Linked DNA regions of Homo sapiens. The protein of the gene in region 2 purifies or fractionates together with the protein of the main gene of each other region. This does not show direct contact. Each region holds a gene or a part of one and is shown on either strand. Other genes may lie near its edges.

Region 1 (7,323 bases), on a different chromosome or scaffold from region 2:
TACCTCTTCAAGACCTCCTCTGCGGATCCCACCCAGAACCAGACTCACAGGAGATTCACGGCACAGACACCAGACCCTCACTGACATCCACCCACTCTTTTTTTCCGGGCAGGTTCTCCTTCCTCTGTGCCGAGGCCTGTTCCACTCAGGCTACTGAGCCAGGAGGCAGGCTTGGTGGGCTAGACACAGTCAGCATTTAATAACAAAGGTGTAATAATAATACAAACAAATATACTATTAAGATGAACCTAACGGTTGGAGTTTGCCAAGCCATCCTGTGACTGCAAATCCCTTTTCAATTAATCTTCATCAGTTACCAAATGAGGGTAGACTAGAATGATCTCTAGATATAGAGATATAGAGATCCTGGGCATCTCTATGCTTCCGTGAGTCTGTGAATGTTGCCTAAGGAGAATAAATGTGAGCTCCTTAGGCTATGAGAATAATAAGAGGGAGAGTATGGGCTCTTTGATATCAGAATAAGACAGAATACAGGCTGGGCACGGAGGCTCATGCCTGTAATCCCAGCAATTTGGAAGGCTGAGGTGGGAGGATCACCTGAGGTCAGGAGTTCAAGACCAACCTGGCCAACATGGTGAAACCCAGTCTCTACAAAAATACAAAAATTACCCGGGCATGATGGCAGGTGCCTGTAATCCCAGCTATTCAGGAGGTTGAGGCAGGAGAATCACTTGAACCCTGGAGGCAGAGGTTGCAGTGAGCCGAGGTTGTGCCATTGCACTCCAGCCTGGGCAACAGAGCAAGACTCCGTCTCAAAAAAAAATAATAATAATAATAATAAGACAGAAAAGAAAGAGAAGAGGAAGCGAAACGCTGAAAGGCTATCAGTTAGCTGGGCTGGGTGCAGTGGCTCACGCCTGTAATCCCAGCACTTTGGGAGGCTAAGGTGGGTGGATCACCCGAGTTCAGGAGTTCAAGACCAGCCTGGCCAACATGGTGAAAACCCGTCTCTACTAAAAATAGCCGGGAGTGGTGGCACACACCTGTAGTCCCACCTACTCGGGAGGCTGAGGTAGAAGAATCCTTGAACCTGGGGGACGGAGGTTGCAGCGAGTCAAGGTCGCACCACTGCACTCCAGACTGGGCAGAGCAAGACTCCGTCTCAAAAAAAAAAAAAAGGCCAGGCACGGTGGCTCATGCCTGTAATCCCAATACTTTGTAAGGCCGAGGAGGGTGGGTCACTGGAGGTTGCGGTGAGCCAAGATCGCGCCACTGCATTCCAGCCTGGGCAATAAGAGCGAAACTCCATCTCAAAAAAAAAAAAAAAAGCTATCAGGACTAGAGGAAGAGCGAAAAGTGAAAGGGCGGCCAGGAGCAGAGGCTCACGCCTATAAGCCCAGCACTGTGGGAGCCCAAGGCAGGTGGATCACTTGAGGTCAGGAGTTCAAGACCAGCCTGACCAATATGATGAAATCCCATCTCTACTAAAAACACAAAAATTAGCTGGGCATGGTGGCATGCGCCTGTAATCCCAGCTACTCAGGAGGCTGAGACAGGAAAATCGTTTGAACCTAGGAGGCAGAGGTTGCAATAAGCCGAGATCTCGCCACTGCACTCCAGCCTGGGCAACAGAGCCAGACAGTCTCATAAAAAAAAAAAAGGAAAAAAAGAAAAGAATGTACGGGGGAAGGCACAGGCTTGAACTCATACTGGGTGCCCTACCAGTGAAGTCGGCTTATCTCTAAAGCATCCTTTTAATCTCTCTAATGGAAGGATTATGTGTCCGAAACTTACCCCAAACCCACTTTCCAGTGTTTAGGGAACATCTGGCCTGATGTAGGCTTTCAATTCAGATGAGAGATTCACAGCCAACTTTCTGGGGGCCCTGGGGTTACGGGGCTAGGAAGGCAGGCATGACTGTAAGGTCTGAGGAGAAAACTAAGGGACGGAGTTGAGGAAAAAGAAATAGGTCCTTTATAGTCCTGGCTCGCTGGTAGCTCCCTCTCTCTCTCTCTCTGTAGTTCCTCAACGCCTATGTCTTTGGGACTCACCTTTTCTCCAAAGTCCTAAAATCTTCTTTCAAGTTCCCCATAGGCTCTATTGTTCCCCCAAAGGGCTCCTCAGATCCAGATCCTCCTCCTCACACACACCCACAGTCTCCCATTTAATCATCTGTATTCTCAAAACATTTATTGAGTGCCTACCAGACACTGTGTGAATACGTATCTAAGACAAAAATTCCTGCCTTCGAGGAGTTGTTAGTGGGTGCAACAGACAACTACACAGATTGGGTTGCAGTGAGGGCAAAAGGGGAAAGTCTTAGGTTTTTTTCCCCCAAGATGAGTCATCTGGAGCTTTTCAGTTCCTCAAACTCGTTCTTAGCTTCTCAGCCGGCAGGCCTCTGCCTCTGTAGTTTCCTGAGTGGGCCCCTCTCTTTCCACTTCTCTTCATCCGGCTAACTCCTAATGCCTCTTCGTGCTTCCTGTATGAAGCCCTCTTTGACTCCCCTCTGCACACAGCCTTCGCCCACCCCCTCCCCCACTCCAGGCTAGACCAGATGCTCCTCGTCCGGCCCCCAAAAGGAAGCTCTGTACCTCCCCTATCATGGCATCTACTACTCTGAATTATCATTGCTTGTTTCTACCAATGTGTGAACTCCAGGGGTACCGGGACCAGATCTCTCGTCCGCCGCAGCGTCCCGGCGCAAGCCTGTTCAAGGAAGGAAGACACCCTGCAGAGCTCGGAACCTTGCAACCCCCGACGCTGCTCCGCAAGCACCACCGCTGGAGCCAGCCCCTCCGGCAGGATACGCCCCACGGGCCCCGCCTCCTCACCTTCGCATTTGCTGGGCAGGCGAACCCAGTCGTTCTCCTCAGCTCCGGCCTGGCTCGGGCCCAGCTCCGGGGCCGGCAGCAGCAGCAGCAGCAGCAGCAGCAAGGGAAGAAGCAGAAGACAGCGGGACGCGGGCTCAGGCATTGAATCCATGGCCCGGCCGGGCCCGGACCCTAAAGGACCGGGCGGTTCCTCCTCCCGCGGCGCGCGCGGAGCAGTTTCCCCTCGCCGCTTCCGGGACTGCACACGTGCCTCCGAGCAACCACGACAACAGCTAGCCTCCCGCCCGCCCTCCTCTCGCAGCCGCAGCCCGCCTTCAAAGCGGACCAAGGCCCGCGGACGGCGCAGCCAATAGGCTTTCTGGGGTTTGCTCTCTAGCTAATGGGAAGACTATCTTTTTACGCCCTTGGCCAGTAAGAGAGCAGATGGTGGCCTCAGCGACCTATGGCAAAGTCCTTTCCCACCCCCTAACGGAGGCTCTGGGAGAGAGAGGATGCAGGACCAAGACCCGAGAAGAAGCCTGCGTCTGGGCCTGGGTGGGACGGATTCAGGCGCGCAGGTGCTGGAAGATGTGGGGAAGGCCGTCTTCGCGGCTTTCTCCGCCTCCTCGAACGTCACTTCCCTCCTGGGGTCCTAATGCCGCAAGTCCTTACTGAACATCTGTTTTTAAATTTTATTATTGGTATTGTGGTTGTTATAGCCGGGCACTCTTGTAGGCGCTTAAGGTGCAAGCAGGACGACTCAAACTGTCCCCAGCCTTCACACTTTTTTAGTAGCCAGTAGATTTGTCCTAGTGAGAACTAGAACAAATGACTTCCTCTCTGAGCCTGTTTCTATTTGTATGACGACAAAGTGATCCTCCTAGCTGCTGTGGGAGCTTGCCTGTTGTTGGGAAGCTCAAATAGGTTAATAGAATTAAAGCTTATCGAGCAGATTGTAAAAAGTTCAGGCATTAATTTTCTTTTTGTATGTAATCCCAGCCCCTTTTACTGCCCTATTATTTATTTCTTGATTCTGAGCTCTCAGAAGGCAGAAATTTAGCCGATTAACGATTGTCTCTCCCTTCCGCTTCCCCAGCAACAACAGGGTGCCTGGCACAAGGAGATACTCAGTAAAACTCTCATCTGCTGTGTCATTAAGGGGAACACTTAATGGCTCACGCCTGTAATCCCAGCACTTTGGGAGGCCGAGGCGGAAGGATCACCTGAGCCCAGGAGTTGGAGACCAGCCTGGGCAACAGATTGAGACCCTGTCTCAACAAAGAAGAAGAAGAAGAAAAAGGCCAGGCGCCGTGGCTAATGTCTGTAATCCCAGCACTTTGGGAGGCCAAGAAGGGAGAACTGCTTGAGGCCAGGAGTTCGAGACCAGCCTGGTCAACATAGCGAGACACCCCCCCCATCTCAAAAATAAATAAATCAAAATAAAAAATAAAGAGGAGGCCGGGCTTGGTGGCTCACGCCTATAATTCCAGCACTTTGGAAGGCCGAGGTAGGTGGATCACGAGGTCAGGAGTTCAAGACCAGCCTGGCCAAGATGCTGAAACCCCATCTCTACTAAAGATACAAAAAGTTAGCCGGGCGTGGTGGCACACGCCTGTAATCCCAGCTACTCGGGAGGTGGAGGCAGGAGAATTGCTTGAACCTGGGAGATGGAGGTTGCAGTGAGCCGAGATCACGCCATTGCACTCCAGCCTGGGCGACAGGGCAAGACTCCATCTCAAAAATAATAAATGCCGGGCGCGATGGTTCATGCCTGTATTTCCAGCACTTTGGGAGGCCAAGGCGGGCAGATCACAAGGTCAGGAATTCGAGACCAGCCTGGCCAATATGGTGAAACCCTGTCTCTACTAAAAATACAAAAAAAAATAGCCGTGGTGGTGGGTGCCTGTAGTCCCAGCTACTTGGGAGGCTGAGGCGGGAGAATTGCTTGAACCCTGGAGGTGGAGGTTGCAGTGAGCCGAGATCGCGCCACTGCACTCCAGCCTGGCGACAGAGCGAGACTCCGTCTCAAAAAATAAAAATAAACAAATAAAAATAAAGAGGAGCACTCTTGGTCTTCTTTAGGCTGCCCCTGAACTCAGTGTCCTACAGACGCACACAGACCAAAGTTGCTTCTCTGGGAAGTTGTCTGCAAATTGGCCATAAAACCCTGTTCCCTGATACCTTCTTGTTTCCTTCCTAGAGGTTGGATATTTATGCTATTTTATGAAGACTTCAGAGCACTGAGGCCCAGGCCTTGCCACTTTCTGACTTTAGTTTCTTGTCCAAAACTGTGTTGGTAACAAAGCACTTTGGATAGGCAGGGGCTGTGGCATGTGGAATTCCACAGTGTACAAGATCAGGACACCCTCCTAAGGTCCTCCATGTTTTCTAGGCTTGATAAGACTTAGGTTGGCTCAAGCTGGGCACAGTGGCTCACACTTATAATTCCAGCACTTCGGGAGGCCAAGGCAGGCGGATCACTTGAGGTCAGAAGTTCAAGACCAGCCTGGCCAATGTGGTGAAACCCTGTCTCTACCAAAAAATACAAAAATGAGCCAGGCATGGTGGCGTGTGCCTGTAGTCCCAGCTACTTGAGAGGCTGAGGTGGGAGAATTGCTGGAACCTGGGAGACAGAGATTGCAGAGAGTTGAGATCGCACCACTGCACTCCACCCTGGGGGACAGAGTGAGACCCTATCTCAAAAAATAAAATAATAAAATAAAATATAAAATAAAATAAAATAAAATACTTGGGTAGGCTCAGAGCTTGGCCATGGCCCTTGATTCACCTCGGCTCAGAAGCCCTCCTGGGAAATAAGATTAAGCCAGCCTGACAGTGGAGATTGAGAAGCCTGGGCTCAGCATCTGGCCGGACAGCTAGGAAGGGATAGTGGCCAGAGAAAGTCTGAGGCTATAGTTGGGCCCCTGCCCACACCCTCCCTCAGTCTGTGTGTCAGAGAAGGAACATGCCTTGTGGGGATGGTGGACAGATTCATCCGTAGAAGCTATGGGACCCTCCCACCCCAGCCACCAGCACCCAAGAATCCCCAAAACAAGTGGGAGAATCTCCTTTCAGGCTGGTGAGAGATGAGCAGTGGAGGAGGCAGTGAGAGTTTTTATGGAACAGTAGCTGAGAGAGCACAGAGGCTCAGGGGAGCTGAGGGTGTCCTTGAAACCATGTGTTGGGGTGCTGGGGCATAGTTCCCCATCCCCTCCCTGGGGGAAGGAAGACTAAAGTTGATCCAGCAGACTATCCTATGGGGCCCAAGGGACAGGTGGATTTACATGACAGCACCCAGAGTCTCTTGGAGTGATTACTAGCAGAGAACCCTTGGGAAAGTCTGGATTTCCTGCCAGCGCTGGGCAAGCAGGGGACGCACACGTTATGCTCTACTGTGGAAGCCTCATACTTGATCAATACAAGAATCTTCTTTATGTAACAACCAGACCAAAAAAGCCAAACCTCTTTAGTACCTGGCTCAGGGTTGATACTTAAAGAATATTTGTCAAATGAATAATGACTCTTAATTGATTAATAAACTGTAAGTTTGGAATTAATATCTCATACTCTTGTTATTGAAAACGATCCTGTTCCCCAGAAACCCTGGCCCTGTTCACCTCTGTACGAGAGTTCACATCAGACCCACCACCCACCTTCCTGGGTTCCTGGGCTCTCTGCCCTGACCTCTCACAGAGGTTGGGCCAGGGTGAGGAGAAGAGGGGGCCTCCCCGCTTGCTGTTGGGGGAGGAGACAGCCGCCTTCCCAGCCACCAGTCCCACTCTGCAGTTCCCAAGTTCTGTCTCAGGAAGCCCTCTTCCTCAAGGGAGCTTTCCTGGATTTTTCCTACTTCTAACTCTGCCAAATTCCTTCCTCCCAGGATAGACATGAATTCAAATATTTTTCATTTGCTGTGTCATTTAAGTTCTTTTTTAATGTTCTCAGTCATCTGCTCCCTAAATGCCCCTGTAACTGGGTGGATCACCATTCTCAAGGGGCCCCCTTTTGGATGGCAGAGACACAGCCTCACACAGTGTGACGCAGGGGAGGTAGAGCCCTGCCCTCAGGCAGCTCCAGCCTGCAGAGGAGGAGGCAGGTCACCTGCAAAAAATGCTCCAAGACTGGAGGAAGGAGCCCTGAGGGCAGATCTTGAGCACCAGGCCTGTGCTGGGCAAGTGGGGTAACTGCTGAGGTAAGACCCTTCCCCCCATACTGGGCTCCCGGGCTTCCGACCCGGAGGGGTGTCACCCCAGCGGCGGTCCCGAGGCTGGGGTCTGGGTGAGCTGGTGGCCTCTCGTCCCCCAGTCTCCGTGGCCGGGTGCAGTCGATGGGAGCCGAGGGCTCGCAGGCGGGTGGTGGTTGCGGGGGAAGGCAGCGGGCCCGCGGGGTCGCACAGGCAGCTGCAGGTCAGGAGCAGGTCAAACAGCAGCAGCTTGAAGAGCAGCAGCCGCAGGACCCCCAGCCACAGCGCCCCACCCGGTGTCCCTGCGAGGAGGAACCGCTCAGGAGCCCGCAGGAGCCCGCAGCCCCCTACCCCAGGAGAGAACGGCGG
Region 2 (7,667 bases):
TCTACCATTTTGAGTAAGACTAGAGCTCCAGCCATGTCACAAGTATAAACTACCAATTAAGGTCTTTAGGTCTCTTCTTGGGGTGACCCTTTAATTACCTATATCCCTCCATTAAGCCCTGGCTCTTGGATCCCTTTTATTCCAGCTTACCTTACCTACCCTGCTTGGGCCACTGGGGTAGGCCATTAATTCTGGGGAAATTGGAGTAGATACAATTTAGATCCTGTCTTTCCTGTTCTTGGAGAGTACGTTTTCTGCCATTAGATTACAGTGTATTATGTGGTGTCCTATTCTTTCTGTCCTTTGTAAGCATGTTCCATTTTAGTCTCGGTCTTGACTCCTGACTCTGCCCTTCACCTTCATTCTCCCATCTGTGTGGTGGTTGAACTTCCTCCCTCTACTCTGTGTTTGCACATCAAGTCCTGTTGAATTCTACTCCACTCCACAAATATCTTAGACCCTGCATTTATATTAAGATAGAGAAACTTCTAAAGCCCTGTAAAGAGAAGAAGCAGAGAGAAAAATAATCTCTAAACTCTTTAGGGATCAGGGAATCTTAATAGATTCAAATCATCCAAGTGAGCCAATAGCCTATGTTATGATGGGACTTTTTTTTCTTTAACTTGAAGCTATAATTAGTAATACCTATCCTTTGTGTCTTAGTGATGGGCAAAAATAATGCTATCATATTAAAAGCATTAACTGAAAGAAAGAAACTGTGGTGTTAACATTTGCTCATTGTGTACCCCTGCAAAAAAGAAAAGAGAAAGTAGCAATTATAACTGGTCAATCTTATAAGTCTTTATCCTCCAATTTATAGTGGAGAAGAACTTCTGAAACAATCAGTATTGTTATATATTTGGCTGAATTTCTCATTTTCCAGTGTGTATGTGTATGTGTCATACATAGTGGGCAACAGATACTTAAGTGCTGTATTAACTTTTTCCTTACCCAGCATTCATTTCTGTGTGCCAAGAAAACCACAAGTAATTAGTTTGCCCATAAAGGTGGGGAATGAATGATGTGGTATAACGTCACCCTTGCAGTGTTAACTCAAAGACAGTTACAGTTACTTGGTACCAATTGATAGAGGGTCTAAACTGTTAAAATTGATTTAAAAAGAAAGTCCTATATTGACTAGGTTTTCAGTTTTTGGTACTGTATGTAGATGGCATATATAAATTATTGTGGAATGCTATTGATATCAAAATAACCAGTACTCTTCTATGTATTTTCTTCAAATTGTTTTCTATAATAATAACCTTAAGCTGATAATTCATCTTTATTTCTCCAAATACACATTTCCGCTAATTTATTTTTGAGGCAACACAACATTGCAAGTATAGGGCATTGTGTAACATTACTTAATATATAAATTGCAACTGGTGAGGGATCATCTTAAAGTCTAGTTTTCTTTAAGTTTTATTTTTTGGTTACTATAGATACTGTTTGGTTACCATAGATACCATTTATTAATTTGGAAAGCATACATACTCTAAAAATACAATCTTAGGGACAATTATTATGAATTCGTTTGAATCATTTAAAGTGATTTTCCCTTCCCCTTACCTTATCAGACACATTCAGGAAAAGCAAAAACATGCATTTAAATGGGCAGTATTTTAGAAGCTAAATTTAGAATAGAAATAAAGTACCTTAATATTTTTTCCATCCAGGTATTTATCCTCATAATCTTGGCTAAATATGGATTCTTCAAAATTATCTGTTCCATAATCATAGATAATGCGTGAGTCCTGCTGGGTTGGTGGTGCTGGCTTTATCAGAGGCACAAGCAGTAACAGGAGAAGTGTAGACTGCAGAGTCTTCATTTTAGCAAAAATCAAGGTGACTGGAAGTTAATAAACTAGTGGCCTGCTGACTGTGGGACAAAACTCTCTTTTTCCCTGGAAATAAAAATTCAGACCATCGAAGCAATATTTAAAAGCTTAGAGGATGTTTTGGCAGGGTGTGCGCAGTAAGGGCCAGAGAACAGTATTTAACCCTTAGTGATCTTTAATTAGATGCTAGCAGTTTTTATGTATCAGTGAACATTCTGAAAAATAGTTTTGGAAAATAGTTTTACTTCTCTATCAGAAATTCAAGAAAGATTGATAATTTTAAGTTTCTTAATAATTAAGTGCCTTCAGCAGACATACTAATATTTAATTGAAATATTCTTAGGATACCTGTAGTATAAATAGTTAAAATAAAGTCCCAAGATCCTGTCTCATGTGAGTTAAAAATATCATATTTCCACTTAGCTACTTTATAAGAACTCTTGATTTATATTGGTATGAACAGAAACAAGTTCCAAGAAAAGTTTTAAAACTTAAATTTAACATTATGAAAAGTAGTCATTAACACCTTTAGGTGGTACAGAATATAGGAAAAGCCATACGTTTTTAATTTTCTTAGTTTTGTAATTTTAATAGGTGATCATAATTTTTAGTTAATAGTATTGTATTTTTAATTTAAGCTAAGAAAACTGAAAGAATAGTATTGCAGGCTAGAGGAAATACCGAACTTTAATCAAAGAACTTTGAGGAATGTAATAGAAAGGATTCCTTTAGGCTCATCAATGGATTTTCTCTGGTGGGTACACATTTCAGACTTTTTCTTAAGTAACTTCAAACAGAATCACTCAAGAGTTGCTGATGCTGCATTATAGATGCCAGTTTGTCAAAAATCCAGAGGTTGAAAATGAAGAAGATAATGGATTTGTGACTTCTGCAGCACCCTATTCTTGCCTGCGTGGATGTTAAATTTATGCGATGATATACATAAGTACTTCTTAAAAATTAATTGAGGTAACTGAAACTTAAACCAGAGATGGCCTTTACATTTATTAAGACTATTAGATGAGTCAGTCGCACTTTAACAAACAATATTTAAAATAATATATGAAAAGTAAGCCTACCGTTGTAGCTGTTTTGAAGTTTTTTGTGGTTTTCCTCAATAGATGTTCATGTCTGTGCATTAGCCCCAAGTGGGAGGGTGAATGAGAAAAGCTATGTCTTGATTTCAAACTGCTGAGTAAAATTTCAGGGCCCAGCAGCTTTAAGAACAGTTTCCATGTGGTAGAGATCTTTGCCAGCATTCTTTCTCTAGGGTGAAATGCAGTGTGTTGTACTAGAGAACTGTGCTTAAGTTATTTGTTGTAACTGCTGCACTCAGTCTGCTTCAACTAATTTGACTATAAACTTGTGTGATTTTATTATTGTGTAATAAACATTCATGTTTTGGTGAATATTAGTTTATGAAAAATGATATAGTTTTAAAGTCATCCTTTTCATTTTGGTGATTTCCCAGGAGATCAAACAATCTGCTTTTTGAATGAAATAGGACACCAAATGACAACATAGTCCATGTTGTTAATTTTATGAGGATTAAAAATATTGCCCTAATACCATAATTAATATATAGCCAGTGTAATATATTTTTCCAGTGTAAAAATTAGTTTTAGCACAAATTATTTGATAGTTTTGTCATTTGGATTTTTTCTCCCCTTTATTTTAGTTACATATAAGAAAAACTGATGCATAAAAATTAGCTTTTTAAAAGTAAATTTGATTTATAGTTTTTGAGGTTGATAGTAAAAGATACTTTTGTTTGCTGAATGAAGGAAACTTTATAAAATTACTTTAATATTGAAATTGGCTTTTAAAAATTAAAGTGGCATTGTAGATACCATACAAGCAACTTTGAAGATTTTTTTAAAGAGTCACTTTTAAAAAATTCCTCCTTGGTGCTTTTACCAATCAAATTAACTTTTCTCCTTTAAGCTAAAAATTTAACAAATATGGATATATATTTTATTAAAATAGAAAATGAAAGAATAACAATTTGTTTTCTTTTCTAGACAAAATTGTTTTAGAACCTTTCAAATCAAAGCTTAAATAAACTAAGACTTGAGCACTGAAGTTTTTATTTGAATGTGAATTATCTTAAATTTAATTGTGATATTGTCTGGCTTGAGTTGATATAAATTGTTGGTTTTATGGCTTCAAGGATACAGTAAAACTTTTTTAAATACTTTGAAATATATAATAATGAAACAACAGACATTGATTTGTTTTGTATTGTGTGGCAAGTTAACAAGATATTGAGAAGTAAGCTGGATAGATACCATATGTCCAAATTTAGAGAATCTTAGAGATTCATAGTTTCATTAATGGTACACTTTGATGCTTTGTACTACAGAAAATTATTTTGTGAAGAACAACTTTCCTTGAAAAGTTATGACCAGTGAATACAATGTTATTAGCATTCACTCATTTAATAAAAGTTTATTGAGCGCCAATTCTGTGCCAGGACTTCAGACACGTAAGCTCAGATAAGCAAACTTCAGTTTCTTCCCTCAAGGAAGATTTATAGCCTCTAAGTCAGCAGGAAAAGCAGCAAACAAGCAACTAGAATCCATGGTAGGGCTTGCTACACAGAAATATGCAGAGTTCTGTGATAACCTGGGAGAAGCCACAAACTGACTGGGAGTCAAGGAGACTGCACCCAAACTGACTTCTATAGAGAGGATAGGAGAGGAGGGTAAGCGCAGGTGATGAGGTATTCTAGGCAAGGGGATCATCACGTGCTCCCCTTAGGGAGGGGATGGGGGTAGATCATTCAGAAAATTTATAATTTGTTTTGCATACTGCTGGAGCTTGGAGGGAGAGAGAGAAGAAGTCAGGGGGATGGACCATATTAAGAGATGCGACTAGACAGGGGGAATAGAGGTTGGATTAAAGAAAGTATTTTATATCCTGCTAAAGTATTTGGGCTTTAGTCTGTAGTCAGTGAGAGACCATGTAGAGATTTTTAAGCCAGTGATGGCTTAAATATGATCCTGTTTGCATTTTAGAAACATTCCTCTAATGTTGCATTGCTGAAGAATACCACTGTTCATCTATTGTAGTGGTTATCTATTACTGTGTAAAAAACTACCACAAAGGAATGGCTTAGTTAAAATAACACACATTTATTATCTCACAGTTTCTGTGGGTCAGGAATTTGGCGTGTCTTTGCTTGATGGTCTGCTTCAGGATCTGCATTTGAAGTGCATCTGGCACTGCAGCCTCACTTCAGGGGTTGAGTAGGGAATGATCCAGTTCTAAGCCCATGTGGTTGTTGACAGCATTCAGTTCCTTGCAGAATGTGAAACTGTGGACGTAAGTTTCTTGCTAGCTGTTGACTGACGGCCTCCCTCAGTTCCTTGCCATGTGACTTCCTCAAAAGGGCAGCTCACAACATTGCAGCCTGCTTCTTCACAGCTAGAGGAGGAAATAGTCTTCTGGCAAGATGGGTATTACCCGCACTTCTGATACCAACAGCAATTTCAGGAGATTCCTAGAACCACTCTTATTACATTTGATAATTCCCTAGAAGAACTCTCAGAACTCACTGAAGACCATTATACTCATGATTATGGTTTATATAGAAAAAGGATACACCCTAAAATCAGCCAAAGGGGGAGATGCGTAGGGGCAGTGTCTAGAAGGCTCCAGACTTGAAACTTCCATTGTTCTCTGGATGCATTGCCTTACGTTGATATGTGGCAGTGTATGTGGGGTATTGCCAACCAGGCAAGCTTATTCTCAGTGTTCAGAGTTTTTATTGGGGCTTTATTAATAGGTTTGATTGATTGATTGATTGAATTCAGCCTCCTGGTCCACTGATACTACATAACCCAAATCCCTTATCCTACATCACGTGGTTGGTCTTCCTGGCATAGCCACCTCTACCTCAAGACTATCAGGTGTGGCTGATCTCACCCTAAACAAAAACACTCCTATCAGAAATAACATAGATCACCTCTCAGAAGCCAAGGCAAAGCCCAGACCTCTCTTTAGGCAAAGCCAAAATCTTTACTACACAGTACTCAATATAAAATGCTTGAAACTGAGGTGATTTTCTATTCCAGAAAGAATTGAATGCTGATAGAAAGCTATTTAGCTTTTACTCTACAGGAGTAAAAGATGAAAGCTGTCTCATGCTCAAGAGCAGGCATTGTATCCAAAGATGAAAGAGTCTTCTTTGTGGAATTCTTTTTATGAAGGCAAGGTCTTGCTCTGTCACCCAAGCTGGAGTGCAGTGGCACGATCATGACTCTCTGCAGCCTCAACTTTGTGGGCCCAAATGATCCTCCCACTTCAACCTTCTGAGTAGCTGGGACTACAGGCATGCACCACCATGCCTGGCTAATTAAAAAAATTAAAAGAATTGTAGAGACGGGGTCCTCTTATGTTACCCAGGCTGGTCTCGAACTTTTGACCTAAAGTGATCCACCTTGGCCTCTGTGGAGTTCTTTTAGGTGACCCTATTGTATTATCTTTGGTGCCTTATAGGGGTTTTATTTCCTCAAAAGTGTACCATTTGTCTGTTGGCAACCAAAAAAATGTGTTGAATGGAATGGAATTTTGGAAACAAGAGCTTCCAGGGAAAAAGTATTTTTGGGGAGTGGCTTAATTCTGATAGAGACCATATGACCTCCAAGTGGATTAGCTTTCAATGAATGCTACAAACCAGAAGAGTCTTTCCCCCATCTTCATCTTCATTCTCTAACTTTGTAGGAAATAGTTTGGTTTAGGAGTCAAAACACCTGAGTTCTAGTTTTTGTTTGTTTGTTTGTTTTTGAGACGGAGTCTTGCTCTGTCTCCAGGCTGGAGTGCAGTGGTGCGATCTCAGCTCACTGCAACCTCCGCCTCCCGGGTTTAAGCAATTCTTCTGCCTCAGCCTCCTGAGTAGCTGGGACTACAGGCATGCGCCACCACGCCCAGCTAATTTTTATGTTGTCAGTAGAGACAGGGTTTCACCATGTTAGCCAGGATGGTCTCGATCTCTTGATCTCGTGATTTGCCCGCCTCGGCCTCCCAAAGTACTGGGATTACAGGTGTGAGCCATTGCACCCAGCTGAGTTCTAGTTTTGATTCTTCATGAACCTTCCCCTGACCTTGGCAAGTTCTTTAACGTTTTGGGCCACAGTTTTTTTATCGATTGAACTTTTATCGATTGAATCGGGTTACTACAGAGTTCCTCAGCCTCTGCACTACTGACATTTTGGACCTGATAATTCTCTGTTGTGGGGGCTGTCCTGTGTGCACTTTAGGATGTTTAGCAGCACCTCTGCCTTCTACCCACTAGATGCTAGTAGTTGCACCCCACCCCCACCCCTACTTTGTGATGACCAAAAATGTCTCCAGACATTGCCAGCTGTCCACTGATGGGTGGGGGTTGGGGAAGCAAAATCATTCGTATTGATAACTGCTGAGTTACTAGATACACATAGACCCTTTTTAATCCAGCATTCTGGATTTTGTGGAAAGTCTGTGGTTTGGATCTCCGTCTTAAATCTCATACTTATGCTTGAAGCCTAATTGTTTGTTCAAACAAGAAATATGAGAACCCATGTATTTTACTTCCCAGACTAAAGGGTAAAATTTATATGGAGAGAATTATGACTCAATGTAAGGAAGAGCTCATGGTAAAATTGTATTTTATTTGTTAATTTAGTTTTTCTCAGTAGTACATAAATCTCTGTATAGTGAATTCATAACCTAAACAAGTAAAGTGATGCAAGATGTGTCCATGATGTTATGATATTTACACCTAGGCAGATTTATAACTTGGAATAGTTATATCAATTTAGGAAATTGGAACATATAAGAAACTTCAGA
Region 3 (4,650 bases), on a different chromosome or scaffold from region 2:
GGTGCTAAGCAGTCCCTCTTCCCTTTCTCTTAGTGCCACACCATCATCCACATTCACTTCGGGTCTCTCCTGAATCAAGCTGTGCTTATGTTTTATAGAGGAAATGTGAAATCAAAGTTGTTTTGCTTCATCTCCTGCAGGGTAACTCCGTCAGATGCATTGCTTTGACTGCATGCTGTCCTACGTTTAGAAGCGCTGTGGTCTAAACCCTGTCGTGAGTCAAGGTGTGGCACGCACGGGGCAGGTGGCGATTACGGCCCAAGAAGGCCCAGTGCTGGGTCGATACACTCAACACTGTGATCATCTTTTGTTGGTGGGTATTTGCAGAATGCATTGAACAAATTAAAGGAGGGTAAGAAATGGCTTATCTGGTGACAATGGAGAGTGGTATTGTTTTCCACATCATCATATTCTTAAACAACTCCCAGCGATCTAAAATGCTGATGAAGGAAGGATAGAGTTTTATTTATTTTCACCAAATAGCTGGACATATTAAAAACTTAAGGTAGACTGGAAATAAAATACAACTCCAACATGTTTTAAATCAGATTTGATTTTTTTAATTCAAATTGACCCAAAGCAAAACTTACATTAAAAAGGAAGAACAAAATACATTATGATATAACACACTAGGAGTTACATGAAAGCTAAATTTGTGGGCAAATGGCCTTATCCCAATCACATTCTGGGCTCATGAGCACTCCTGCAGGAAAGTTAGAATCTCAATTTCGTATGGTCCACGCCGGTCATTAAACTACACATTCTTGTCTCTTGGGGTGTGCATCTGACGAGTCATGCTAGAGTCCCTCATGCTCCAGATGTGTACTCTTGCTACTGCCAGAACGCTGGATTCTCTAGTGGAAATGCTGTTCCAAGCATGACTGACAATGAATTAAAAAATGAGACAGTCAAGTCCTCCAAACTAACAGGCATGGATTACTGTGTAGTAAATAGTTTAGAAATATGGGAATTAAATAATCTAAAAAACACTCTTACTCTGCTGTACATTTATAAACACAAATATTTACAAAAAAAAAAAAACACAAAACCTTGTTTTCGAAAGATGAGGTTTGCAGTTCATTAATGATCATAATCTTTTGTAAGCTGGTTTCTTTGGTGTATTTGCCAAATATATTTTTATAAAGGTTTAGTAATAGGCTTAAATAATAAATTTCAAAGGAAACATAAAAGAATCTGACAAATTTGAAAATATTCTGAACATTTTCTGTTCTGTTTCTGGAAAAAACAATCGGTTGATTTTTCTGAAAATATCTGTTCTCCCTATTCATTATGTGACCATGGAATGCTTCTCTGTGAATCCAATTCAAATGCAGACCTGCAGGTGTCACCACTATCATCTACCAGTAACCCACCTGGAGACATTTTAGTTATTGTGAAATGTGATTGGGATTTTATTAACAACAAAAATAAAACATTCTTTTTAAGCTTCCAGATAAATCAAACCTCAAACAATAAATAATGGAATTATACACTTCTTCATTAAATAGAAATTTCAAAATTCCAGGAAGAGCTCTCATAATTTTTTTTTTCTGAAGTCACAGCAGCAATACAGAACAAAGAATTTACCTTAATCTGATCTTTTTACGTGGAATTCCCTGACTCAAACTCAGTGGCTTAGTTTGGAAACCTCTGAATGGCTGGGGAGAGAAAATCTTTTGAAACTAAGTGAATAAATTAACACACACATACGTGGAAATCAGCCCTTGTGCAAGTGTAACATGAACATCACTGATGAGAGTGCAGAAACTCCAGGCACCCCTCTGCCTCCTCCTATCCCTGGGCCTGGGGTTGTAGGGAGAAGTCACACTCAATTCATTTCTAGCCACACCATGTCCCTAACAGTGCTAGTGTGAACTAGCCCTGACCTGGGTATTGGTTTAAAGAATGAGAATACAGCTTGGCAACTGTCTTCATAAGGGACTCTCTCTGGAGATAACTTTTTGGAACATTTTTATGGGGAAGAGGACAGACTACCCGTTCCTATCCATCAGGCTCCAGCTAGTTTGGGGATGGTTATAGAACTGGCCACACTCAGAGTGGCTGCCTGCGAAAGAGTCTATGCCAAAGAGTCTATGGGCCACACCAGCAATCTCCCGAATAATCCTCTTCTCTGAAGCTGCCCGTCTTCGGAAACCTGTGCAATGCTTAGGCACAAGCAGATCAGAGTCTAAGAGCAAACGCTGTGCTTGAGAAAACAGCACTGCTGGCTCTGAAAAAGGTGAAGCCAGAGAAAACTCCTAGTTCTGCTTAGTTACACTTCTGGGTGAAACAGTTTTACACTTCATGACTTAAATCTAGAAATTCAGACGAGAGAAGCCCTTCGTCTTGTAAACTTCTGATAACAAATTTATTAACAGTGTGTTAAATATTTTTTCCCAAAGCACTAAGAACGATACTGGGACATTTGAAAAGGTTCTTCTGAAGTTAATAACACAAATCAAGCCAGAATACGTTTCTGAGGGCATCCTCTTAGATGCCTAATGCCTCTGGGACCTTTTCCATTGTTACTGACACTTTATCATATCCGTGTTTACACGGCAAACATATGCCCAATCAACCCAGAAAATAATTGTCCTGAAGAGCCTCACTGTATATAACCTTAAAATGGGAAATGTTTAATTAGCATATTAGAAATTAGCCAGACTTATAAATGTGTACCCCTTAAAGATTTTACGCTTAAAAAGTTTTTTTTTTAAACTGGGAAGAAAAGAAACACCATGAAGCCACCCCAAATTATTGAACCATTAAAGCCAAATGATTTAACAATTTTTAAGGGAAGACTCGACCACCAGGGTACAAAATTTTCTGCTTAAAGTGAAGTCAAAGACATAGCTTCAGATGGAAATTGCAACTGACATACGATGGCTCTGCAGTGACAACTGAAGCGGCGGCTCCTGTCCTCACGGGCATGTCAAAGCTGGCTGTGAAATGACGACCAGCAAGTGAAATAATGGATAAAATACACCAGAAGGAGTATTGCACTGCAGGCACAGTTTTAAAAACAGAATACACTGGCTTCACAAAGTTATTTTCTTTCCCGTTAATTTTTTTAAAAGTACAACTCTAACTAGAGATAGAAATCGAGATGCAGTGTCTCAGGGTAGTGTACTACAGTTGTTAAAAAAAAAATAAGTTAAAAACAAGAGCACAGCAAAAGAAAAGCAGAGGTACTGGATTTATGTCATAAGCAGAGATACTGGATTTATGTCATCCGAAAGCTACATTAATTAGGAAAAAGAACAGTTTGAAACGGCCAGTTTGTACTCATTAAAAATGAATGAGGTGACAGCGTTACTTCAAACATTTCTTAGGGCATTTTCCAAAAGAACCCAGGGTCGCCCTGGGTGAAACTGTGCCTCCAAACGTTAACAAGTGCTCTGCTGGTTTAGAATACCGTGCTTACCAAGGAACCATAAATTTGGAAAGGGTAAATTCTCCACTCTAAACCTGCTTGTGTCATTTAAGAAAAGACAATTTTTCTAAATGCAGTATTGTATACAAAGCTTGGACCTCTTAAACTTGGACCAAGAAACCAAATTAAGACCTTCAAGCATGTGGTGTGTGTTTTTATATATATATAAAAAATCCCTCCCCTACAATGAAAACCAACCAAACAAACAGAAAACCCAAAAGTGTATACCTGCTTTCTGATTTCACAGCAAATCAGAAATTGCATAGGATATACTTTGTGCAAGGCAAAAAGCCTTTTAAGTATCTAGAATAGAACTCCTAATCTTGCTCACAGTTCTGGCATATCAGATATCATCAAATTTGTGTTTTAAGTAGTCTTTCATGACCTTGGCAATTGGTAGTTCATCAAGTAGCTTTAGGTTTTGAAGGCCTATACATTGTCGAATTTTAATTCGGCACAGGTCCTGCAAGTTTCTGGGCTGTCCTAAAAAGACAGAAAAAAGAAAATGTTACAAAGCCACAAAGCACAATATTTAAGGCACTTTTGAAAAGAACTGTTCATTTCCCTGGAAGTTCTCTCTATGGACTTGACATGCAAAGGACCGGAAAGATACCAACTCAAAGTGTCCTAGGACCTTCATGCGATGCCTTATTTGATCCTTTTCACAACCGTGGGATGGTGGATATTTTCAACTCCATTTTACCAATAAGAAAACTGAGTATCAGATGTAAACAAGTTGCTTAATATCAGACAACCAATTAAGGCTTTCAACTGAGACCAAAAACAGTTTTGATTCTAAGCCTCATATCCTTTCTGTTATAAATCAGGAAAATTCTGGTTCTCGTCCTGACTAGGTCTCTCTCACGCTGGGTGAGCCACTGTGAGCCAATCATTCCTCTGAGCCTTGGCTTCTCAATCTGAAAAGTGTGGGGACTGAAAGAGATGTCCCCTATTGTGAGCCTCCCTTTCAGCTCTGGGTCTAGGACACTGGAGCCCGGACACCCACCACGGTCTCTGTGGAGCTTTCCAAACAAGCTTTCCAGATCTGCTCACCTGTTTTCCGTGATTCTGAACACAGCAGAACCTTGGTTGTAAGGCTGACAGTTGAGGAGTGCAGCAGAAGGGGGTGTGAAAAAGCGCCTCAAGGTATTCTGAATCTACATCGCTTCAAGCTTCCACACCCTGATCACTTGCCAATAAAAACCCGTTATATCTCA

The links. Proteins that work in one complex are often made in the same cells at the same time.
Region 1: the proteins of OGN (region 2) and CNPY3 purify together in Homo sapiens (affinity purification with mass spectrometry; 3 studies listed by BioGRID and IntAct, with this or other methods). This does not show direct contact.
Region 3: the proteins of OGN (region 2) and ASB7 purify together in Homo sapiens (affinity purification with mass spectrometry; 3 studies listed by BioGRID and IntAct, with this or other methods). This does not show direct contact.

The regions. Positions count from the first base shown.
Region 1 is NC_000006.12:42,925,194-42,932,516, reverse strand, and holds the start of CNPY3 (protein canopy homolog 3 isoform 1 precursor), read right to left. Parts: upstream 3,038-7,323; 5' UTR 2,947-3,037; coding exon 2,796-2,946; intron 2,671-2,795; exon of another isoform or gene 2,606-2,670; intron 1-2,605. Other genes in the region: CNPY3-GNMT (Glycine N-methyltransferase-like isoform 1 precursor), read right to left, coding at 2,796-2,946; PTCRA (pre T-cell antigen receptor alpha isoform 1 precursor), read right to left, coding at 6,835-7,301. UniProt on the Homo sapiens protein: Toll-like receptor (TLR)-specific co-chaperone for HSP90B1. Required for proper TLR folding, except that of TLR3, and hence controls TLR exit from the endoplasmic reticulum. Consequently, required for both innate and adaptive immune responses.
Region 2 is NC_000009.12:92,401,579-92,409,245, forward strand, and holds the start of OGN (mimecan isoform 2 precursor), read right to left. Parts: upstream 2,918-7,667; intron 2,187-2,917; exon of another isoform or gene 1,905-2,186; 5' UTR 1,830-1,904; coding exon 1,656-1,829; intron 1-1,655. UniProt on the Homo sapiens protein: Induces bone formation in conjunction with TGF-beta-1 or TGF-beta-2.
Region 3 is NC_000015.10:100,647,589-100,652,238, reverse strand, and holds the end of ASB7 (ankyrin repeat and SOCS box protein 7), read right to left. Parts: intron 3,917-4,650; coding exon 3,777-3,916; 3' UTR 538-3,776; downstream 1-537. UniProt on the Homo sapiens protein: Probable substrate-recognition component of a SCF-like ECS (Elongin-Cullin-SOCS-box protein) E3 ubiquitin-protein ligase complex which mediates the ubiquitination and subsequent proteasomal degradation of target proteins.